3 linked regions of the Homo sapiens genome follow. The protein of the gene in region 2 binds, or shares a complex with, the protein of the main gene of each other region. Each region holds a gene or a part of one and is shown on either strand. Other genes may lie near its edges. A codon is read from its position in the direction of its gene.

Region 1 (6,967 bases), on a different chromosome or scaffold from region 2:
AGGACATTTTTAAATGATTCTTAATTGCAGGGTAGCCAAGTGGAGTAGGTCTGTTGCTGGCACGTGAATACTGGCTGAACCTGTGCAATGTAGTAATTGCTAAAGTTGGCATCTGCTACATAGGGGGCTGGCTGGTAATAGCAAGTGACATTAGCCACATTAGGAATGACATTTTGGTCAGCTAACACCCGGATAGCCAGCATGGTGATAAGGTTTAAAGTCTGTCTTCTTTCATGTCCCATCAGGCACACTGTGCTCTCATTTACCACTCCATGAAGGGTCATGAGATACTCATACTTGCGGTCTTCCAATCCCACAAAGTGGTTCTGCAAATAGGACTCCAGTTTTCTCTGCTGCTCTCCAATGTCTGAGAAGTCGATGAAAAACCTGGAACACATATACCTTTGAAGGGTCTTGATTTCATCAGAGGCGGGCCTAAAGCCCCTCACCAAGAGGTTGCAGTACTTAAGCAGGCCTCCCCCTCGGATTTCCTCTGGGTTCCTGGTGGCAATGATCTTGTTACAAAGGTGATCAAAGGCTTCCTGGAAATCGCCATAGACGCTCTCCCCGATTATTGTGGGGTGAAATGTCTCAGTCATTGGGTTCTCTGAACATTCATAAAAGAGCAGAAGAGAGTCTAATTTGATTTGAAAAGAATCTACACTGAATTCAAACTGCCTCCGGAGGGAATCCACAAATTTCAGTTCCACATTTTTGCCACTGTTGTTTGACAGGGATATAAGACTCCATCGGTCAGAGTCATTGCACACTTTAACCATTTTCTGCACATAAGCTTCCTACAATTTAAAAGATAAAACAAAATGAGCAAACCTAGAAAATAATAAATCAATAAATAAATACATCCTCTTCACAGCTGAGAATTATTTTGCTCTTTCCCTTTTGTTTTGTCAAGTTTCAGCCAAACACTACCTACAGGCTTAAACGGTCTTCTGAAAATAGAAAAAAAATACTTTTAACGAGTAGTTTTACTGTCTGGGAAAGGGACTAGAGGTAATAGTTTGAGGCTTTTGGCAGACGTAGCACAGTAGTAAGAGGTTTTGTTGTCATGTCTGACTTTTTAAGTGTTACTTTTTGAAAACGGTCTAATAGGCACAATATTCACACAGTATCCAAACAACATTCAAAAGACTCGGAAGGGCATTCAGCGGTAGGTTAGTCAGCCTCTCGCCCTTGTTCCAAGCCACCCAATTCCTCTCCGCCTGCGGCAATCAATGTTATCAGTATCTTGTGTGTCCCTCCAGGGGCACCCTGCAGTTACAATCAAATATAAACTAAATTATGACATTCCAGGAGCCTGCCTCCTCAGACAATTTTAACTAATCATATAAAACCCGTCTTGAACTAAAGTGGAGGGTGGGGAGGGGGTGCCACTATACCCTTAACATATGAACCAGCACGAAGAACCACCAGATAGACCTTTAACACGTAGTCAGCTGAATGCCGCTGTGAAATCTATTCACCTTTTCCAGTACAATAAAAAACTCATTGACTCACTTCTGCTTCAGGCTGTTATTTTCCCAAAGGCTAGACTCAAATATAATGACTCAAAAATTATTTACATCATTTCATTCTGCCAAGTATCAGAATCTACTCTGGACAAGACTCCAACAGGGAAAGCCAAGAGTTAAAACATAAGGAGAAAGAAGAGAAGAGAGGGCAGAGGAGGACCTGGGAGAAGAGTTGTAGCGCCAAAGCATCAAGTAAACTGAAACACTCAACACCGTCCACGCACGTCAGTTTACTGGTTTAAAAAATCAAAAATCAAAGAAATAACGCGCGCCCAAACTCGTGATGGCCACAGATTCATGGCATTTAACCGATGCCCCTCTGCCCGCTCCCCGTCACACCCGGCCCAGACTGGGTCAGGACCCAAGTGCATCTCGGGTGGTGTTACCTTGAGCGTGAGTGGTGTGATCTTCTCTTTGTTCACCCCCTCGGGTAAGAAGTCCAACAGGCAGTCCAGCACGACGTCCTTCACAGTCTGAAACTCCCCTTCCCCGCGCAGGTCGGCGCAGAAGATGAGGTCCAGGTCCTTGTAGCCCAGGCCGCTGTCCTGGTGCAGGACATGGCTGGCTGCCGAGCCGTTGAGGCGCACGTCGCGGACGCCAATGCGCTTCTCGGCCAGGCGCCGCCGCACCACCTTCACGATCAGGCTCGGCTGCAGCTCGAGCGTGGGGAAGTTGCCGCGCCCGTGAATCGGAATGGTCTCGCTCAGGATGCCGTCCAGCCGCTGCACTTGCTCCCAGTTCAGCACATTGCAGTGCGCCGTAGGGCTTTCGCAATAGTCCAAGCAATGCCCACCGAAGCTGCCGCCACCGCCGAAGTCGCCGCCGCCGAAGTCGCCGCCGCCGAAGTCGCCGCCGCCGAAGTCGCCGCCTAGGGGGATGTAGGGGCTGCAGGCCAGCTCGTCCTCAGACATGGCGAAGTACCCTTCACCCTCCGCCATGTAGTGCCCGCCGAGCGCCACTTGGCCCTGGTCAGTCCTAAAAAGAAAGGGAAAGGAGCGCGGTGAGGACGCGCGGCGGCGGAGAGCACGCGCGGCGGCGGAGAGCAGAGGCCCGCCAGGAAAAGAGCGCCCCCTCCCCCGATAGTTCCCTGACCCCGGGCCTCCTCGGAGACTCCCTCCCCCGGCCCTTACAGTCCCCAGCCGCGCACCGCGCCCCGCAGAGCAGCCCCGCACCAAAAGTATCTCTGATGCATCTGGAAAGCGCAAGCGAGAGTCCCGTCTGTGTCACCTGGAGGCGGCCGCCCCTTCTAGGAGCGCAGCGAGCGAGAGCGAAACCGAGAGGCGGCAACACTTCCAGGAGCTGCGAGCGCGCTCAGACAGCAAATAGCGACTTCGTCTTTCCCAGACCCCTGCCGCCTGCGCTCACCACTCCCTCCCCGCGACCCCTCCTGCGCCGCTGCCACCCCAGCTGCGGTGGTCCCGAACTGGCGGCTCTTGCTGCCACACACGCTCGTGTCTCTGGAGCTTTAGCAGTTGTGCGGGGAAAATGTCTTCAGTACTTTTTTTATACCGGGCTTCTCTGCGCTTCCGGGGCCCAGAGCGGCACGTTCGCCACACCCTCCTCATCTGCATAGGGCGCCGCCCCCTCTGCCCTCCCCCGCCCGCAGGGCACGCAGCTGACTAGCCCAGCAGTTAGTGCGGGACGACTGCCGGTGAGCGTGAGGTCCTGGGCTGTATGTGCGGATACTGTGTGCGCCCGTAGATGCGTGTATTTATACATACATTTAATTTATGTACGCCCCCTCCCACAAATCTCTTTTCATTTTCCCCAGGAGGAGACACTTTAAATGCCCCAGGAATCATAAGTGGTCATCAAAACCAGATCACGACTAAAATCCTGCAACTGCAGAAACTTCCCAAAATTCTCGCGGACTCAGCCCGTCTTTAGATCATCACGGTTGGGCTCCGGAGGTTCCTCACGACCGCTCTTTTAAACCTCGGTTTTTAGGTAGACCATTTACTCCATTGATAAACCCGATCCAAGTGTGGACTCATGAGTCCACTCTTGCACGCAAATCAGTCACGGCGCGTGAGTGGGAAGGGCTTGTTGATAACTGGGTTTCGATTCTCGAAACCTCGGGAAGCGCGCCGGGGAGCTCTGGGCGAGCCCGAGAAGGCGCGGGGGCGGCACCACGGGCCTCGGGCGTGCGCGGCTCCTGCGCACGAGTGGCTCCAAGGGGCCAGTACTTCGCGGGGGTCAGGGCGCGTCACGGAGCAGACGCGGGCGAGCAGCCAATGGCCGAGGACTGGGCGGGCCGAGTGGGCGCAGAGAGCGCGCCCGGGGAGTGCGTGCTGCCCCGGAGTCCAGGGAAAGGGCCGCTAGGTGTCCGGTGCCTTTGCTGCGAGTTCTCTGACAAAATTGGAGGCGGCGAAGCGCGTTCCTCGCGGCCCCCTAAAGTTTGGCCATTTTAAGTGCATCATAGTGTCAGTGGAATACGATTTGGTTTTCCACGAGACGTAAAAGTAGGAGTTTCAAGAATAAAATGAATTCTCTCCTCCAGCTTCGGTGACTTCGGCAGAGCTAATTCTACGCACGCTCACTCGCGCCACCACCACTCTTTGCTAGAAAGCTGTGGCCGTCTCTTCGGCAGCTCGCTGCCTCCATCAACTAACCCGGAGCAGCTTTCCCAGCGCCTAGACGCTGCCGGGGGCTGAGGTGGGGCAGAGGGGAGAATGCCAGGGTCACAGAATACTCCCCAAACCCTGCTCAGCCCTGCCCGCCCAGACTGGGAGGAAAAACAGCCCGCACCTCCTAACTGGGGGAGCCCCGGCCTAGTCACTCAAGCTGCGCGGCTCGGGGGTGAGGGGTAGGGTGCGGGGGTGTCACCCGTGGAGCATCCAGCTGCGTGACAACGCCGCCCCCTCCCGGTGCCCTGCCGAGCTGCGTCCCAAAATGGAGAAATCCGACTGTCTCTGTGGCAGAGGCCATCCCCTCAGCGCTGCGCCTAAGCACTGAGGTGCGCCTGGGGACTCTAGGACAACTACCCTGTCCGCATAGGGCCATCGCTTCCTTCAGAGCACACCCATGTGTTCCTCTGACCAGCCATCGGCGCATGAATCTATCTTAACCAGGCATTTTATACATATATATACATATGCATATTCTTGTGTGAGCATGTGTATAGAGAGAGCATTTAGTGACCTGTTACGTGCCAGGCAACAGGCTAAGTGCTGAAGATTTAAGAATGACATTTCACGTAATCTAGAGGGCATAGCACCTAGGTGCATAATTATGGTTCAGTTGCATATGTATTATGAGAGAAGTATATTCTGACGCAATCGCGTGGCGGGCTAACTACATAGGAAACGGAGAGACACCCGAGAAGGTGTCATTTGGACTGGATCTTGAAAGAATGGATGTTCTTTCAGTAGTCGGGGAAAGAGGAGAAGAGCGTTATCTACAAAGGGAAGCGTATGGAGTTGGAGAATGTTTGAGGAAGGATATGTACACTCCCGTGATTAATAAATGAGATTGGTAGTGCCTTGAGATAAGGTTTATGAGTACCAGGAACTTATTGAACACGTCTGGGCTATAACCTGTTTAGCTCCTTAACATAATACCTAATTTAATCTTCAAGAAGAAGGTATTTCCATCTCCTAGGGATCTAGAAACAGAGGAATCCAAGAAGTTAAGAAACATTCCCAAGTTCCACAACTAATAAGTTGTGGGGTCAGGCCTTTAACCCAACCCATTTGGCTGTGAATGCTGTTTAGTGGTCATTACGGGGTAACGAGTGGTCTGTAGCTTATCAGTACCTTCTTATTGGAAAACAAGACAAGCACAAATAGGAAGAAGGAACGATGGGGAGGGGAGGGAAGGGGAGGGGGAAAAGAAGAAAAGGAAATGGAGGAAGGGAGGGGAAGGGAAGGGAAAAAGAAAAGAAAAGGGGGGGAAGAGAAGAGTAAAGAAGAAAAGAGAAGAGAAAAGAAAAAGAAAAGAAAAAAGACCTGTTAAAAATGTTTCTTTCAAAGACCGGTATGAATTCTGCCCCTTCTTAAAACAAAGCCAAAGTAATAGATCGTATATTAGACACGCTGTACTTTAAAAACCAAGGGTGTGTGCATGTGTGTGTGTTTAGCTCTACTACAATTATTTTGTACTTTATTTTTACCCTTGCTCCAAAAACTGAAAATAAAGAAGACTCTTAGAGCTGATGGACACCTGCCTATGCATACCCAGGATTTCGTTCTGTAGCACCAAAGGAATCTGCATTTTGGCAAGCTGTCATGGTGATCCTGACACAAGGGCCCAGCCACACTTTGCGCTGCACTGAGAACAGCCACCATAGTCCAGTTCTCTAAGTGGGGACCCTCCCCCAAGCAAAGGCTGATCCCATGGCCATTCCCAGAAATGGAGGGCACAACTGAGAGGTGGAAGCACAGCATGAAGCTGGACTTGCAGGGCCCGCTTACGTGCTATATGCTGTGCTGGGGAGAAGAAGATAATCCCAGCAGCAGTGTGCCAAGACCGCCTCTCCCCCAAGCATCCAATGCTTTGTGGCTGACACTTCCTTAAACCTTTAACAAAACATTCCCCCTTTCCCAACCATAATCCAGACCCTACTGCCTCCTGCATTGGGACATCTGGGATATCTTACTTTTGGCAATGCCTTTGTGGGCAATTTAATCTTTGACTGGATTAATATGTGCCTGATACATAGTGACCAATCATTACATACTGTTGAATGAAAGCATATGTTGTTCACTGTCCCACTTTTTCCTGTCTTCAAACTGAAATAATATTTACATTCTAGGAAAAAATATCCATCCTTAAATAAAATTGCATATTCTGCTATTGAAACCATAATTTTTTTCTAGATAACCAAAATAATTATGAAATGAGAACGCCTATACTTTCCAAATACATTCACAACTAAGATATTTCTCAACACAGTTACTCTTAGATTAAATTTAGATGCAAAGTTGCTAAATTTTTCCCCCAGGCTTTAGCTTCTGAACCTATTTGATAAATTATTTACTTTCTCCCACTTAAAAGGAAAAAAAAAAACACCTGTGGCAATATGAAGCTCTTAGTTGATAAAGTTAAGACCACCACAAAACTGAAATACGGACAGCCTAAATTTAAACTGCTTTCTAAGCGAGCAGAAAAAAAGTCCTTATCCTGAAAGTTTTAAAGGAAAGCTTTGCATAGAATTTTGAGAAAGAAACACTTATAATTAGTTCATCTTATTTTTAAAGTTACAGTAACAATCAATCTGGACTTAGCAAAATAAGATGTTCAGCTTCGGCCTTAATGATAGTTATTATTATTGAGTTTGTTATTATATCCCAGAAACTCTGCTAAATATTTTATATACATTATTTTTTCTAAACTTTCTCTAAAAACCAGAGCTGTACACATTATATCTCCATAGGAAAGATAGGGCATAAGAAGGTTAAGTAACTTAGAGAAATCACAGAGCCTTGGTTCAGACCCAT
Region 2 (7,523 bases):
GGCTGGAGTGCAGTGGTGCAATCTCAACTCACTGCAACCTCCGCCTCCCGGGTTCAAGCGATTCTCCTGCCTCAGCCTCCTGAGTAGCTGGGACTACAGGCATGCGCCACCATGCCCAGCTAATTTTTGTATTTTAGTAGAGATGGGGTTTCAGCATGTTGGCCAGGATGGTCTCCATCTCTTAACCTCGTGATCCGGCTGCCTTGGCTTCCCAAAGTGTTGAGATTACAGGTGTGAGCCACTGCACCCGGCCTAAAGTTTTTTAAAATAAACTTCCACTCCTGCTCTGAAGCTTGCCTCGGTCACTTTTTCTGCCTTATGCCCCCAGTTGAATTTTCTTCTGAGGAGACAAGATTGAGGTTGCTGCAGGTGTCTACTGATTTGCCACTGGTAACATATTTGGTGCCACGTGACTCAGATGGTAAGGGATCTCTATGCCTCGCTTTCTTCTGCTGGAGGCATCTGATCCCTGTGCAGTTTTTCTTCTCCTCCCTCTCTCCTGCTTACTAAACAACCCCCAGAACAATTCCTCTTGGCCATACGTGACTCTGCTCTCTGCCAGTTGATTTCTTAGCTCACTCTGGTGGGTGGCTCATGGGAGTGGGAAGGACCCTAGGGTCTGCATCAAGCAGATCAGAGGCACTATATGGCCCTCCTTGATAGGAGGCTTGAGACTGGTGAGGCTAGGGCCTAAAAACCGTGCAGTGTCTGGGGTTTCCTCTGCCTTTTTTTCCAATGAAAATAACGAAACCTGTTATTTCCCATTGAGGGGGAAAAAGGCGGGAGAAGCCCCAGCAGAAATGAAGCTGCTCCTGAAGCTTCCAACATGAAACTCACCTCGGCACTGGTAAAAAGAGGGCTCAACCTGTCTCTAGATTTACAGTCTAATGCTTGCTCTGCCATTTTACCCTCATACTTATGTTCATCAATCATTGATGAAAAAGAAAAGAAAAAAAAAATGACTGGAATAAGGGCACCTTACTGGTAAGAAAGAACCAAACCTCAAACCCGTACCTTCTATGTCATGGTGTTCTGGGTATCAGCAATAACAACAGTCACCCTTTTACTGAGCATTTACTCATGTTAATTACTGGGTGTATTAGAGTTCTTCAGAGAAACAGAACCAATGGCATATATTTACATCTAGAAAGGGATTTGTTATAAGGTATTAGCTCATGCAGTTATGGAGGCTGAGAAGTCCCATGATCTGCTGTCTGCAAGCTGGAGACTTGTTAGCAGGAAGGCTGGTGTTGTAGCCTGAAGGCCTGAGAGCCAAGGGTGTAGGTTCCAGCCTGAGTGTGAAGGCCTCAGCACCAGGAGCACCAAGGGCAGAAGATATCCCAGATCAAGCATGCAGGAGGAGACAGGACACATTCTTCCTTCTTTGGCTTTTTGTTCTATTTAGGCCCTCAACAGACTGGATGCTGCCCACCTACTTTGGGGAGGGCAATCCACTTTACTCAGTCTATCCATTCAAATGCTCATCTTTTCTGAAAACAACTTCACAGACACACCAAGAAATAATGTTTAACCAGATATCTGGGCATCCGTGATCCAGTCAAGATGACATGTAAAAGTAACTATCACACTGGGCTAAGCATTTTACATGCAAGACTGCAATCCTCACTTAAACCTGCAAGGTAGGTGGTGTTAGCCTTATTTGCAGGAGGTGAAACCAAGTCCCTGGGAGGTTTGAGTAACTTGTCCCAGGTCACACAGCACAGTAAGTGGGAGAGATGGAATTTGGATCCTGGTCTGAAGCCCATGCTCAGTCTCCTAACCACTTGCTACCATCCCTCTGCCTCATTAAGATAAATTCTGAGCTAAAGATGAACACTGAACGAGTGGTAAGCAATCTACTACCTGCTGAGTTCAGTTCCCTAGGGTCAGTACTGTATTTACTTTCACATTCACTATTCTAATTCACACTTTGACCATGAGCTCAACACTGGGAACTAATCTGAGGGCATAAAGTAAGGCTTTTTCCCCTACTTGTCTTACAAAAGTGATCCTGTTTACTGTGAAAGATTTGCAAACTACAAAAAAGTATAGTTCCTCAAAAAAATAAACATAGAATTACCATATGATCTAGCAATTCCCCTGCTACATATATACCCCAAAGAATTGAAAGCAGGGACTCGAACAGATATTTGATACTCATGTTCATAGCAACATTATTTACAACAGCTAAAATGTAGAAGTAACCAAAATGTTTACCGACAGATAAGTAGATAAACAAAATGTGGTCTATACATGCAATGGAGTATTATTCAGCCTTAACAAGGAAGGAAATCCTAATGCATGCTACAGCATGGGATAAACTTTGAAGACATCATGCTGAATGAAATAGTCACAAAAGGAAGAATATTGTGTTACTCCACTTACATGAGGTTTCTAGAATAGTCAAATTAATAAAGATGGAAAGTAGAAAGGTCATGGAGGGAAAATAAGGGAGTTGTTTAACTACAGTTTCAATTTTGCTAGATGAAAAGAGTTCTGCCAATGGATAGTGGTGGTGATGGTTGCACAATGTGAATGCACTTCATGCCACTGAACTGTATCTTTAAAAATAGTTAAGATGGTAAAATGTATGTTATGTATCTTTTACCACCATAAAAAAAGTATAAAGAAACAGGAAAAAAAATTGGCTATGGTATCTCAGTGCAACTCTGTTGATATGTTCACATGGTCTTTCTGAGTCTTTTTTCTAATCTTAGCCTTTTGATGGGTCTTTTTTGACAGCTTCCTCTCTTCTCCATTACAGGAACATGTTTTTGCAGTTGTGCGACCCAAAGAGGCCATTTCAAGCTGCCCCATCAGATGTGGAGCGCTGATGTGTAAGTATTACTTTAATATCCATGACATGGCTGGGTAGACAAGAGACTCCCAGGAAAGACCGAAATCACAGAACACGATTATGGGCAATCTGGGCTCCTGGGGACCTTTAGGGCACGCCATCTCGTACTGATGAAGGATCACTGATTTATCAGATGTTACCCTGCTTAAACAGAAGCAGCCTATTAGCGCAGCTCACACCATTCCTAGAATCAAACATATCCAACCCACCCCCCTCATTTTACAGAGAAAAATCAATTGAGAACCGCAGATCTTATTCCTAGAAAGCTGATGAACCCTGTTTCTCTCGCAATGGGAAGACCTGGCTGCCCCAGGCTGCATCCCCACCTGCCACAGGGGCTGGCGCTCGCTCTGCAGTTGGCCGCAGTCCCCTCCACTCTTCTCTCCAAATAGGCTCGGGTCTTTAACCTAGACTACCCCACTGGCCCCGAAGCATTTTTTTTTTTTTTTAGATAGGGTCTACCTCTGTCGCCCAGGCTGGAGTGTGGAGTGCGGTGGCGCGATCTCGGCTCACTGCAACCTCCGTCTCCTGGGGGCATGCGATTCTCCTGCCTTAGCCTCCTGAGTAGCTGGGACTACAGGCGCGCACCACCACACCTGGCTAGTTTTTGTATTTTTAGTAGAGATGGGATTTCGCCATGTTGGGCAGGCTGGTCTCGAACTCCTGACCTCAAGTGATCCACCCATCTCGGCCTCCCAAAGTGCTGGGATTACAGGTGTCCGCCACCACGCCCGGCTAATTTTTGTACTTTTAGCAGAGATGAGGTTTTGCCATGTTGGCCAGGCTGGTCTCGAACTCCTGACCTCTGGTGATCCACCCGCTTTGACCTCCCTAAGTGCTGGGATTACAGGCGCGAGACACCGGGCCCGGCCCCCCGCCGAAGCATTTTTAACTGCGGTGCCGGCTTTAAAAAAACTTTTAGGTCAAGAAATGCGCTCCAGAAGCTCGGCGAGGGTAGGCTGGGCAGGCGCCTTCCGTCACCGGCGCAGCGGTAGCGGCAGCGGACATCCCCGCCTGGGCAGGCCCAGGTCCGCGGAAGCCTCGGGGCCCTGGCCCCACTGTGTCACACACCGCCCGGGGCCGGGCCCCTGCACGCCCGCGGGCTTCGGCGTCCGTACCGGTACAGCGGGCGGCGACACCTACCTCGCGGGACCGTGCCCAGCACCCGGCCTGGCACACAGCGGGCACCCGGTCGGGGGGCGGTGTCGCGCAGTCCCAGCGAAAAGGCTGCAGGAGCAATGACAACAGGGGCGGAAGCCCCCTCCCCACGCAGCCCGAGGGGCCGCGGCGGCCACCCGCGCCGGGCCCCAGGACCCCGCACCTCAGACTGGGGTCGCGTGGGTGGCTGCGCGCAGCTAGGCGCTCGCGCATGCGCACCGCCATCCAGGCCACGGAATGAGGCCAGAGGTTAGATGGGTTGAACCACTACGGGAAGGGGAGGGGAAGCTTTGGGAGGAGTGATGGAGGGTGGAAAGCGGAAGAAAAAAGCAAGATGGGACCGCAAGCTGGACGTGACTGTAAGGGGTCATGGCTGCGGAATCCAGCAGGGGCATTGGGGTTGACGTGCACTCAGCGCCGAGCTTCTTCGTAGTTCCTCACCCCCTTGGCTACTATGGGCTGGTCCGGAAGGTCAGGCAAGGGGAAGCTGCGCAGGCGCAGTGTGAGCGGCAACATGGCGTCCAGGTCTAAGCGGCGTGCCGTGGAAAGTGGGGTTCCGCAGCCGCCGGATCCCCCAGTCCAGCGCGACGAGGAAGAGGAAAAAGAAGTCGAAAATGAGGATGAAGACGATGATGACAGTGACAAGGAAAAGGATGAAGAGGACGAGGTCATTGACGAGGTGAGAAGGACACGCTCCCCTAGTTGGTTTATACCTGAGAAAAACTTTTTGGCAAGCCCAGGCTGTGTAAAAATAGTGTAGGGTCTTCCCTGACCCTGAGGGTCTGTGAGGAGAAACTGGAGATAAGTTCTTTCTCAGGTTTCTCCTCGGTCTTTAACACACTGCAGCCATAGTAGTTATTTTTTAAAGGTCTAGTCCGGTCCAGTTAATCTCCCAACCCGCGTCCTCCCCGAAAAAGCCCGCCACAACAGGTGTGTTCTTCTCGTCCTCTTTAGTTCTCAGGCTGAAGCCTCAGATCCTGAATCGGCCACCCCGGGCTCGCAGAGGGGGCCCTCTCCCCTCGGGGCAGCAGCTGTCCTCCTCTTCACTCTGCGGGCGGCACTCACTTGGGCCCTCAGTTTCTTGAAGGCTCTTGCCGCGTTCTACCGTAGAAGCCTTTTCAAATGCTCTTCTTTATCCTGCAGTTTTCCCTTCCTTCTTCAGATCTCAGCTAGGCTGTATTTTCTGGCTCCTGGGGCAGCTGACCAAGTCGTGGGTAAATCTTTGGTTTCATAGTCTCATAGAACTGTGTTCCTTTCTTCAGACTAGGTCCTACCGTAGTGCCTGGCAATATAGGTACTTATTATTTGTTTAGTAAACAATTAGGACTGAATGATCCTTCAGCCTACTGAATGTTTAAATAGATACCTCAGCCTTAACTTGTCCAAAGCAGAATTTGTATAATAATTCATGCCCCTCTCTTAATCGTCACCATTTCTATAAATGGCCCCTAAAGTCACCAGCTGCTCTAACCCAAAACCTGGGGCTTAACTTTAATTCCTCCCTTTCCTCATCCTATATCCAGCCCATCAGTAAATCCTGTTATCCAGACATTTCTCAGCACTAATTCTGAGACCATCGTAGTCCACACCTCTATCATCTCTTGCCTGGACTACTATTTAATGTAACAGCTTTTAACCGGCGTTCTTTTCTCCATTTTTGTTCCCCTACAATCAGTCTATACTCCACTTACAGTCAGAGAGATCTTATAGGTCTGATCTCAGGCCTCTGCTTAGATTGCTGCATTGGCTTTCTAGTTCATTTACAAGAAAATCAAGAGTCTTCACAATTGAGGGACGGAAAGGCAGCCTAGATGGCTGGATCAGAATAAGGAAGAGAGAGTGATAGGAAATAAAATCAGAGAGGTAATCATGAGTCATGATGAGCATGGAGGGGAGCATGGAGAGAAGCATGGATGCAGGATTAGAGGTGACACCATGGTGTGGGTATGTGATCAATCTTCCTTCCCTTACAAATTTTACTTTGGCTCTATGCCTTGAATGCCATCTCACCATTTTTCACTTAGAACTTTGACTGGCTCTTTTATTACTTTTGGGTTATAGAAATCAATGCTGCTTGTGTTAACATGGGAAATCTATCACACCACCACAGTCTTAATTCTAAATCACCTGGGAATGAGGGACAGGGCTCTTTTCTACAAACGTGACTGTTCCTGCTGAAGCCATGTGGAGATGAGCCCATACCCAGGAAAAGGGTGCTGGACAGATAATCCATTTGCCGCCCATTTCCCTGGTGGTGCCATAATAGTCTGGGACAGAGGTCCGAGATGTCTGTCTAGACAAAGAAAAAAACACTAGATGAGCATTATTTACAGAATGTATTTATATCTAAGGAATAAGTTTAAGTCCTGAATAATGACAGTTTGTTATTTGGTTTAGTTTGATCCTGTTTGGAACACTCCCACCCGACCCCTTGTGTTTTGCTGCTCACATAATCTGGCTAAGTTAGCATTTGAAGTCTGCAAAGCTGGACTTAAAGAGTTCAAATTGGAGCTGGAATTGCTCTAAGCAATTCCAGGGCCTTGCAATTTTACAATTAAGGAAGACTTAAATATATACATAGTCAGGGTGGCAAGGTAAAAGGAGGTCTGATTTCCTCTGCGATGTTCTTCAGCTAAGACCTAAATTCTGAAACCGTTAAAACCTGAAGTGCCTTTAAATATATTATTTCATCAGAGCCCCAGGTTCATTGTGTCACTTATCAAGGTCTGATTTAGGGTCCTCAAGGACTAATCTTGTTAGTGTTTAAAAGCAACTAGGTTTTGTTTTTGGCATTTTAGTTCCATCTTCTAGATTCTGTTGTCTTGCAGATAGAGATCAGGGAGCCCAGCTACACATTCATTCTTCTAGTCCCTTGTACTCATTGTATTTCCTTCTGCCTTAGGGCCTTAGTTTGTGCTGTTCCCTGTACCAGGAACTCTCTTTGCTGTTTCTCGGTTTCTTGCTCAAATGTCACTTCAAGGAAGGCTTTCCTGACTGACTTCTTATTTTTTAAGTTGTTACAACATTGTGTACCTTTGTTTTATAGCACTTACATTTATTTCTATGAATATTTCCTTAATGCCTATATTCCTTCCTAAATCGTAAGCTGCACGAGAGCAGGATCATTTGTGTCTGCCTTACTAACCTTTTCATCTTGAGTGCCTGGCACAGTGCTTGGTACCTGGATTGATACTTAATAAATATTTGCTAAGCAAATGTAGTGTAACCTCAAATCCATGGGCTAAGTCAAGCTCTAGGCAATTCCAGGGACTTTTGAAGTGATTTTGATTTTTGCCCACCCTTGTAATCAGGAAAATAATTTATCCTTTGTGGCTGCCGTGTCTGGTTTATTTGAACTGGACTTTCTCAACATTTAAACTAGGTTACTCTGAGTGTTTTGTTTTCTCAGGCTTTTGTGTCACCTGAAGAAATAGTGTGAAGGTGCTTTGTATTCTTCACAGATGGCAATCTTGGCAATGTTTGCCTGTTTTAAAGTCTAGATGTTTGT
Region 3 (5,867 bases), on a different chromosome or scaffold from region 2:
CGTCCGCAGTCGGCTGGAGGAGGCAGGCATCAAAGTGCACGACGTCCGGCTGAATGGCTCCGCAGCTGGCCACGTTTTGGTCAAAGACAATGGCTTGGGCTGCAAAGACCTGGACCTAATCTTCCATGTGGCTCTTCCAACAGAGGCAGAATTTCAGCTGGTTAGAGATGTGGTTCTGTGTTCCCTTCTGAACTTCCTGCCAGAGGGTGTGAACAAGCTCAAAATCAGTCCAGTCACTCTGAAGGAGGCATATGTGCAGAAGCTAGTGAAGGTTTGCACGGACACTGACCGCTGGAGCCTGATCTCCCTCTCCAACAAGAACGGGAAGAACGTGGAGCTGAAGTTTGTCGACTCCATTCGGCGTCAGTTTGAGTTCAGTGTGGACTCTTTCCAAATCATCCTGGATTCTTTGCTTTTCTTCTATGACTGTTCCAATAATCCCATCTCTGAGCACTTCCACCCCACCGTGATTGGGGAGAGCATGTACGGGGACTTTGAGGAAGCTTTTGACCATCTGCAGAACAGACTGATCGCCACCAAGAACCCAGAAGAAATCAGAGGCGGGGGACTTCTCAAGTACAGCAACCTTCTTGTGCGGGACTTCAGGCCCACAGACCAGGAAGAAATCAAAACTCTAGAGCGCTACATGTGCTCCAGGTTCTTCATCGACTTCCCGGACATCCTTGAACAGCAGAGGAAGTTGGAGACTTACCTTCAAAACCACTTCGCTGAAGAAGAGAGAAGCAAGTACGACTACCTCATGATCCTTCGCAGGGTGGTGAACGAGAGCACCGTGTGTCTCATGGGGCATGAACGCAGGCAGACTCTGAACCTCATCTCCCTCCTGGCCTTGCGTGTGCTGGCGGAACAAAACATCATCCCCAGTGCCACCAACGTCACCTGTTACTACCAGCCGGCCCCTTACGTCAGTGATGGCAACTTCAGCAACTACTACGTTGCCCATCCTCCAGTCACCTACAGCCAGCCTTACCCTACCTGGCTGCCCTGTAACTAACCTTGAGACCTGAGGGTTTCCACAGTGGGAACCCCAATAGGGCTAGGGCTCTCAGGTAGGGGAGCCTCCTTCTAGATGTAGGCATTTGGCTTTTAAAGGGGAACTCAGCTCTGATTCTGCTTTTTTTTTTTTTTTTCCTTTGTGTACCCATTGGAATGGGTCTACAGTGTATCATGAGCCAACCCTCAAAGGACCCGTATTACAGTGCCACGTTGGAAAACGCTACAGGAAGCATGACCTATCCACATCTTTCCAAGATAGACACTAACATGTCATGTCCCAAACATTAGCACGTGGGGGTTGAGCTCTGTGCAGTAATCGAGATTGGGAGAATTTGGGCAGCGCGTGAGAAGTGCTAAGCTACTTGTTTTCTCACTTGAGCCCGGGTAGGCTGTGTTGGCCCTCACTTGGGATTCTCAGCAGTTACATGAAAGTTGTGCTGATAATCTCTTCTCTTGTACCAATTTTAGTCAGGCAGAAAATGGTAAACATGAGGGTGCTCTTGTGACTTAATTTTTGTTCAAGGGACTAAATTGCTTATGTTTATTCCCTGTCAGCGGAGTGGAGAATGTCATTCATCAATAAACCAAAGCCAATAGCTGGAGAATTGAGATCTGGTTGAAAGTGGTTTATGGTTTACATGCTGTACTATCCTGAGGAATTGCGAGATATTGCTGAGGGGAAAAAAAAATGACCTTTTCTTGAAATGTAACTTGAAAACAAAATAAAATGTGGAACATAATGTTTAATTAGAATTGTGGTGGTGGTAGTGGAAGGGGATAATTGTAAATAGGAAACATGAATGTTCATTTTTTTCTTTAAAGAATTCTTATTAAATGGCTCCCTGCCTTTTTTTTCTTTTTTCCTCATCAGCTCTTTCATGGCTGAATTTTGTTTTATTCTTCCTAAGACTGAGGATTGTGCTGAGTCCAGAGTCATTGTGGTAACTGACATGAGGGTCTTCCCATGTTTTAACTGGAAACCCACTTTGGTCACATTCCAAGTATGACACAGCTGTTCTTCTGGAGTACTTTAGCTATTTTTTGTTTTTGTTCTTTTCGTTTTTTTTTTTTCCAAAAATAGTGACTTCCTTCTCCAGGTGTGTTTGACAGCAACTCAATTCAGGAATTTCGGTAGAACTGAGTGACCTGTGGAACTGCTTTAGAATCTAACCTGCTGTCTTCGTGCTCTGTGTGAAGGGGAAGCTGGGGGGTTAGCATGAAGTCTGGCCTTGTGTGCATTGGAGCTTCCAAGGCACTTTGAAATCATTCCAGTATATTTGGGAAGAATTGAGTGAATGAGAATGCTCTTCCTTATTCTGGTAGATTTGACTTGTTTATAATTCTGCACTTTAGAAGAAAAACAGTGTTAATCTGTAGTTGAAAGAAAGCTTAGTAGATGAGAGAGTTCTAGGCTACTGTGGCTTTTTCCAGTAGATTTAGATGAGATTATGTGTTTTGAAATGTTTTGTGGGATCCCTTAGAAAGCATCACTTCAGGGCAGAGACACTCAATATTGCCAGCCAGCTTGGGTTCTAAAGTGATTTAATCAAATTCATGCTCCTGATCTTTTTTTTCCCCCTTCCTTTGGCTATGAAAACCCAAAGCCCGGAGTGATTGTTTTCTCCTTGCTTTAAGCAGTGAAGTTATCCTAATGCAAAAGAGCTTAGTAGAAAATGAGTGGTTTACCTTTTTTTCTAAAAGTATATTTTCAAGTTTATTCTGGAATGTGATGTCTTGGTCCTCTTAAAAGCAGATCAGCCATGACTGAAACTCAAGGCTTAGCTGGTATCTATGTTGTGCTACATTAGGTGACTAGAAGCCACTTCTTAGTGTAATCAGCTCCTGTTTCCCTGTGAGCCTTAGTTATATTTTAATTCAGTGGCTTTGAGTCAAGGCCGGTTCTAATTGAGGGGACCCAGTGTGCTTCAGTGTTAAGAGTGGGGCAATGAAGAGTGAACCCCAATGAAGAGTGATCCCAACTTTGGAAACTATCTGGTCATTCATGACCTTAAAAAGCTGCCATGGTGGTCAAATGGCATGTGTTTGCACAAAAATGACCGATGTGTTTAACCAAAGCTTTGAAATGTGATGAAGCCACCAACATAAGCACTTGCCTAACAGAAATCAGTATTTCTTCTACTTAGAAGGCTTGGGGCCCAGGGTAATGAGGCACCAGATGAAGATAAGATCTGCATCAAGGAATTAAATTTCCAGTTTGTCCTTGGGGTTCTTTCTGCTTATGTTTTTTCCCCCCCATCTGGTAATAGTCCTCTTCTGAGAATGAAAGGAGGCACAGAAGTTGCGAGAAAGACCCAGTCCCCAGTCTTTGCCACCATTGCACCATGGTTGTCTCGGAGTCCCTTCACCTGACCTTTTTAGTCAGCTCAGATCTTTTTGTAGTTTGAGAATAGACCTATTCAAGAGCTATCAGGGTTAAAAGCTGCACTGACCAAAGCTGTACTTTTAAAACACAACCCCTGGGCTAGTGATGTCTCTACTTGCTCTATGAGCCTTTTGCCAGCCTCAGAATAGGCGAGGTAACCTTGAATTTCAGGGCCCTGGAAACTCTAGCTGAAACCTGCCTTTCCTAATGCTCACACAAGCACCAGGTACCCTGAGCTTATACTGAGTCCAGTGGTTCCTATTTTATGTGTGTGTGTATGTGTGTGTGTTGAGTAACATGAAACTTGGCAGTAGCAGAGAGCACTGAAGTTCACATGCAAGTTCTAATCTAAAGTTAAGCAGTCTCTTATTTGTTTCGGGACTCTGATTTGACTCTTTTTCTGATGCTTTCGGCATGTCTGCAGCCTGTTCTCCTAGCCTGCTGCTTGGAGTCAGGTTGAGCATCAGTGAGATGAAGACAGTACCTTTTCCTCTCACATTGGCAGAATAGCACGCACTAGATGCCTGACCTTGAGCTCTAGTCTCCCCTTTAAATCTTACCTTGGCAGTAACACATTATTCCTCATTCAATAATTTCAATGCTGAAACTGAACTCTATTACTAATGCCTTCCAATCAGAGTTCCTGATGGGGATGCCTGTGGGATGGCCCACACCTGGGGGACCTGGCAGATGGGGTGAGTTGGGTAAGGAAGATGATGCTTAGTTCCTGATAGATGCTACAGATGTAGTTTGGCATTTCAGTTTTTGTCCAGTTTGATTTTCACTGGGGTTTGAGTCACAGCAAGCTGTGTATGAACTTGTGTTTTGTGGTGACACATTAATAATCAAATTGCTAAAACCCTGAATCTGCTTATTCTTCAGCTTCACCTCTGCACTAACCCCTTACCCTTATGGTACGTCAGGATTTTAACTAGTACTGCTTTGTTGACTTTGGGAAATGGTGCCACTCAAAAGCAACTTCCTAACTTGAGGAATAACTCCTTTGTAGTTTACTTTCTGGTACTGGTTGGTGCCTTGTATTGGGATACAGCTATATTCTTAGCTCAAATGTCCTCTTTTTGAGAGCAAAGTAGTTATCCAATGGTGAGACGAGACCCTGACGCTCATAGAGGCCATTCCTTCCTGGGTGTCGGACCAGGGCTCTGTGTCAGGGAAAACCTTCTGGGTGGACTTTGTAAGAATCCAGTTTCCAAGGTTAGATTCACATCCTTAATCTTGCAGAGACTAGAATTTCACAGCTCGCTTTGGAACATATTCCAATTCAACCAGTTAAAATCAGAGGACCAAGTCGTGGGGGAGGGGGGCGGTGTTGAGGAGAGGTATTTTTAAAGATCTGGCAACTTTTCAGGATTATTTGTGGAGAACTCTAAGGTTAAGATCAGGAAATAAAAGACTGTGTGTGTGTGTGTGTGTGCGTGTGTGTGTTCAAGTGCCTAAATCTTGTTTACCTATCACTTTAAAAAAATAATTGAAGTGTAAGCTAAATAAAATGCTTGGAGTTTTGCCTGGGCTAGTGAGAGTTGGTGCAAATTCTTGTGTGTGTTTGCATAGGAAGGTGAGATGACCATCTACTAAAGAGGAAGTAGCTAAATACAGATCTGTGGGTGTTTTTAAAAAAACTCAACCTATCTGGTGTTTTATTTTAATGGATAAAAATGTAATTTTTCTAAGGTAGCAACTTATTTCCAAATTAATATAGATGAAAAATAGATACCAATTAGACTAAATTGAAAGCTTTTTGTTCTATATTTGCATAGCCTTTGAAATATTTCTTAGTGCCTAGGAGGTCTGGGGATTCCTCTTTCGTGGTGGTCACTAACCTTACTTGATGCAGATAAAATCACTTGTCAATGCAAAATGTGTTAGAACTTGATAAAGCTTTGAGTTTGAGAAATAAAGGTATATTTAAAATTTAAATAAAACTTGTCATTTATGCTCATTGATTTGTTTCTTCTCAATGATGAATTTTAGGTTTTAGGAAACATTGAATAGAAATAGGAAGCTGTCAACATCAGCCTTGGATGCTTCTCTGAAGGACAGATGCTTTTTTGAGGGGGGAGGGCTGTGTGGTTACCTTGGAGACCACAAATCCCTTAATATTTGGGCTCTTTTTCAAGGTGCCCAGCTAACTTAAACTAGGCTTCGTTGTTGACCACAGCCTTTCAGCTAATACCCACGGCAGGTGTAGTCTTGCAGTTCGCCTTTGCTGGCACCTTGTTTAATTCAGTCCCTTTAGCTCCTAGCCCACTTCAACAACAACAAAGAAAACAACTTCAGCCATACATGTACAACTACTGTAGTTTCTTCACATTTTTAAAGAAGTATAGAAGTGAACAAGTGATACTTGGAGTGGTTGATAGATGTTTGAAGGGTATAAAGAGATGCTGTAGACTTTGGTTAGCAACCTTCCTCCTCATTCCTTTGATCTAATTCACAACAACCCCTG

What was found. The genes of interacting proteins can lie anywhere in the genome.
Region 1: the proteins of BCCIP (region 2) and TENT5A are in contact, whole or in part, in a crystal structure (PDB 8EXE), measured with the Homo sapiens proteins. Residues at the interface, in NP_510868.1 of Homo sapiens: Val57, Asn58, Ile59, Glu60, Phe61, Glu62, Ala63, Tyr64, Ser65, Leu66, Gln146, Val149, Leu150, Phe152, Cys153, Glu154, Lys155, Asn156, Cys157, Glu158, Lys159, Glu163, Lys167, Leu203, Ala204, Ala206, Thr225; in NP_060103.2 of Homo sapiens: Arg87 (codon at 2,209), Gly88 (codon at 2,206), Asp139 (codon at 2,053), Glu151 (codon at 2,017), Gln155 (codon at 2,005), Lys158 (codon at 1,996), Lys184 (codon at 1,918), Glu185 (codon at 797), Val188 (codon at 788), Gln189 (codon at 785), Lys190 (codon at 782), Met191 (codon at 779), Val192 (codon at 776), Lys193 (codon at 773), Val194 (codon at 770), Cys195 (codon at 767), Asn196 (codon at 764), Asp199 (codon at 755), Trp201 (codon at 749), Asn213 (codon at 713), Arg289 (codon at 485), Lys295 (codon at 467), Glu331 (codon at 359), Arg334 (codon at 350), Gln341 (codon at 329), Asn342 (codon at 326), His343 (codon at 323).
Region 3: the proteins of BCCIP (region 2) and TENT5C are in contact, whole or in part, in a cryo-EM structure (PDB 8EQB), measured with the Homo sapiens proteins. Residues at the interface, in NP_510868.1 of Homo sapiens: Val57, Asn58, Ile59, Glu60, Phe61, Glu62, Ala63, Tyr64, Ser65, Arg136, Gln146, Cys153, Lys155, Ala204, Gly205; in NP_060179.2 of Homo sapiens: Asp90 (codon at 107), Asp92 (codon at 113), Glu102 (codon at 143), Gln106 (codon at 155), Arg109 (codon at 164), Lys135 (codon at 242), Glu136 (codon at 245), Val139 (codon at 254), Gln140 (codon at 257), Lys141 (codon at 260), Leu142 (codon at 263), Val143 (codon at 266), Lys144 (codon at 269), Val145 (codon at 272), Cys146 (codon at 275), Thr147 (codon at 278), Asn164 (codon at 329).

Annotation. Positions count from the first base shown.
Region 1 is NC_000006.12:81,749,675-81,756,641, forward strand, and holds the start of TENT5A (terminal nucleotidyltransferase 5A), read right to left. Parts: upstream 3,008-6,967; 5' UTR 2,757-3,007; intron 2,505-2,756; 5' UTR 2,468-2,504; coding exon 1,916-2,467; intron 798-1,915; coding exon 21-797; 3' UTR 1-20.
Region 2 is NC_000010.11:125,819,029-125,826,551, forward strand, and holds the start of BCCIP (BRCA2 and CDKN1A-interacting protein), read left to right. Parts: upstream 1-4,517; 5' UTR 4,518-4,529; coding exon 4,530-4,694; intron 4,695-7,523. UniProt on the Homo sapiens protein: During interphase, required for microtubule organizing and anchoring activities. During mitosis, required for the organization and stabilization of the spindle pole.
Region 3 is NC_000001.11:117,623,030-117,628,896, forward strand, and holds the end of TENT5C (terminal nucleotidyltransferase 5C), read left to right. Parts: coding exon 1-1,015; 3' UTR 1,016-5,360; downstream 5,361-5,867. UniProt on the Homo sapiens protein: Catalyzes the transfer of one adenosine molecule from an ATP to an mRNA poly(A) tail bearing a 3'-OH terminal group and enhances mRNA stability and gene expression.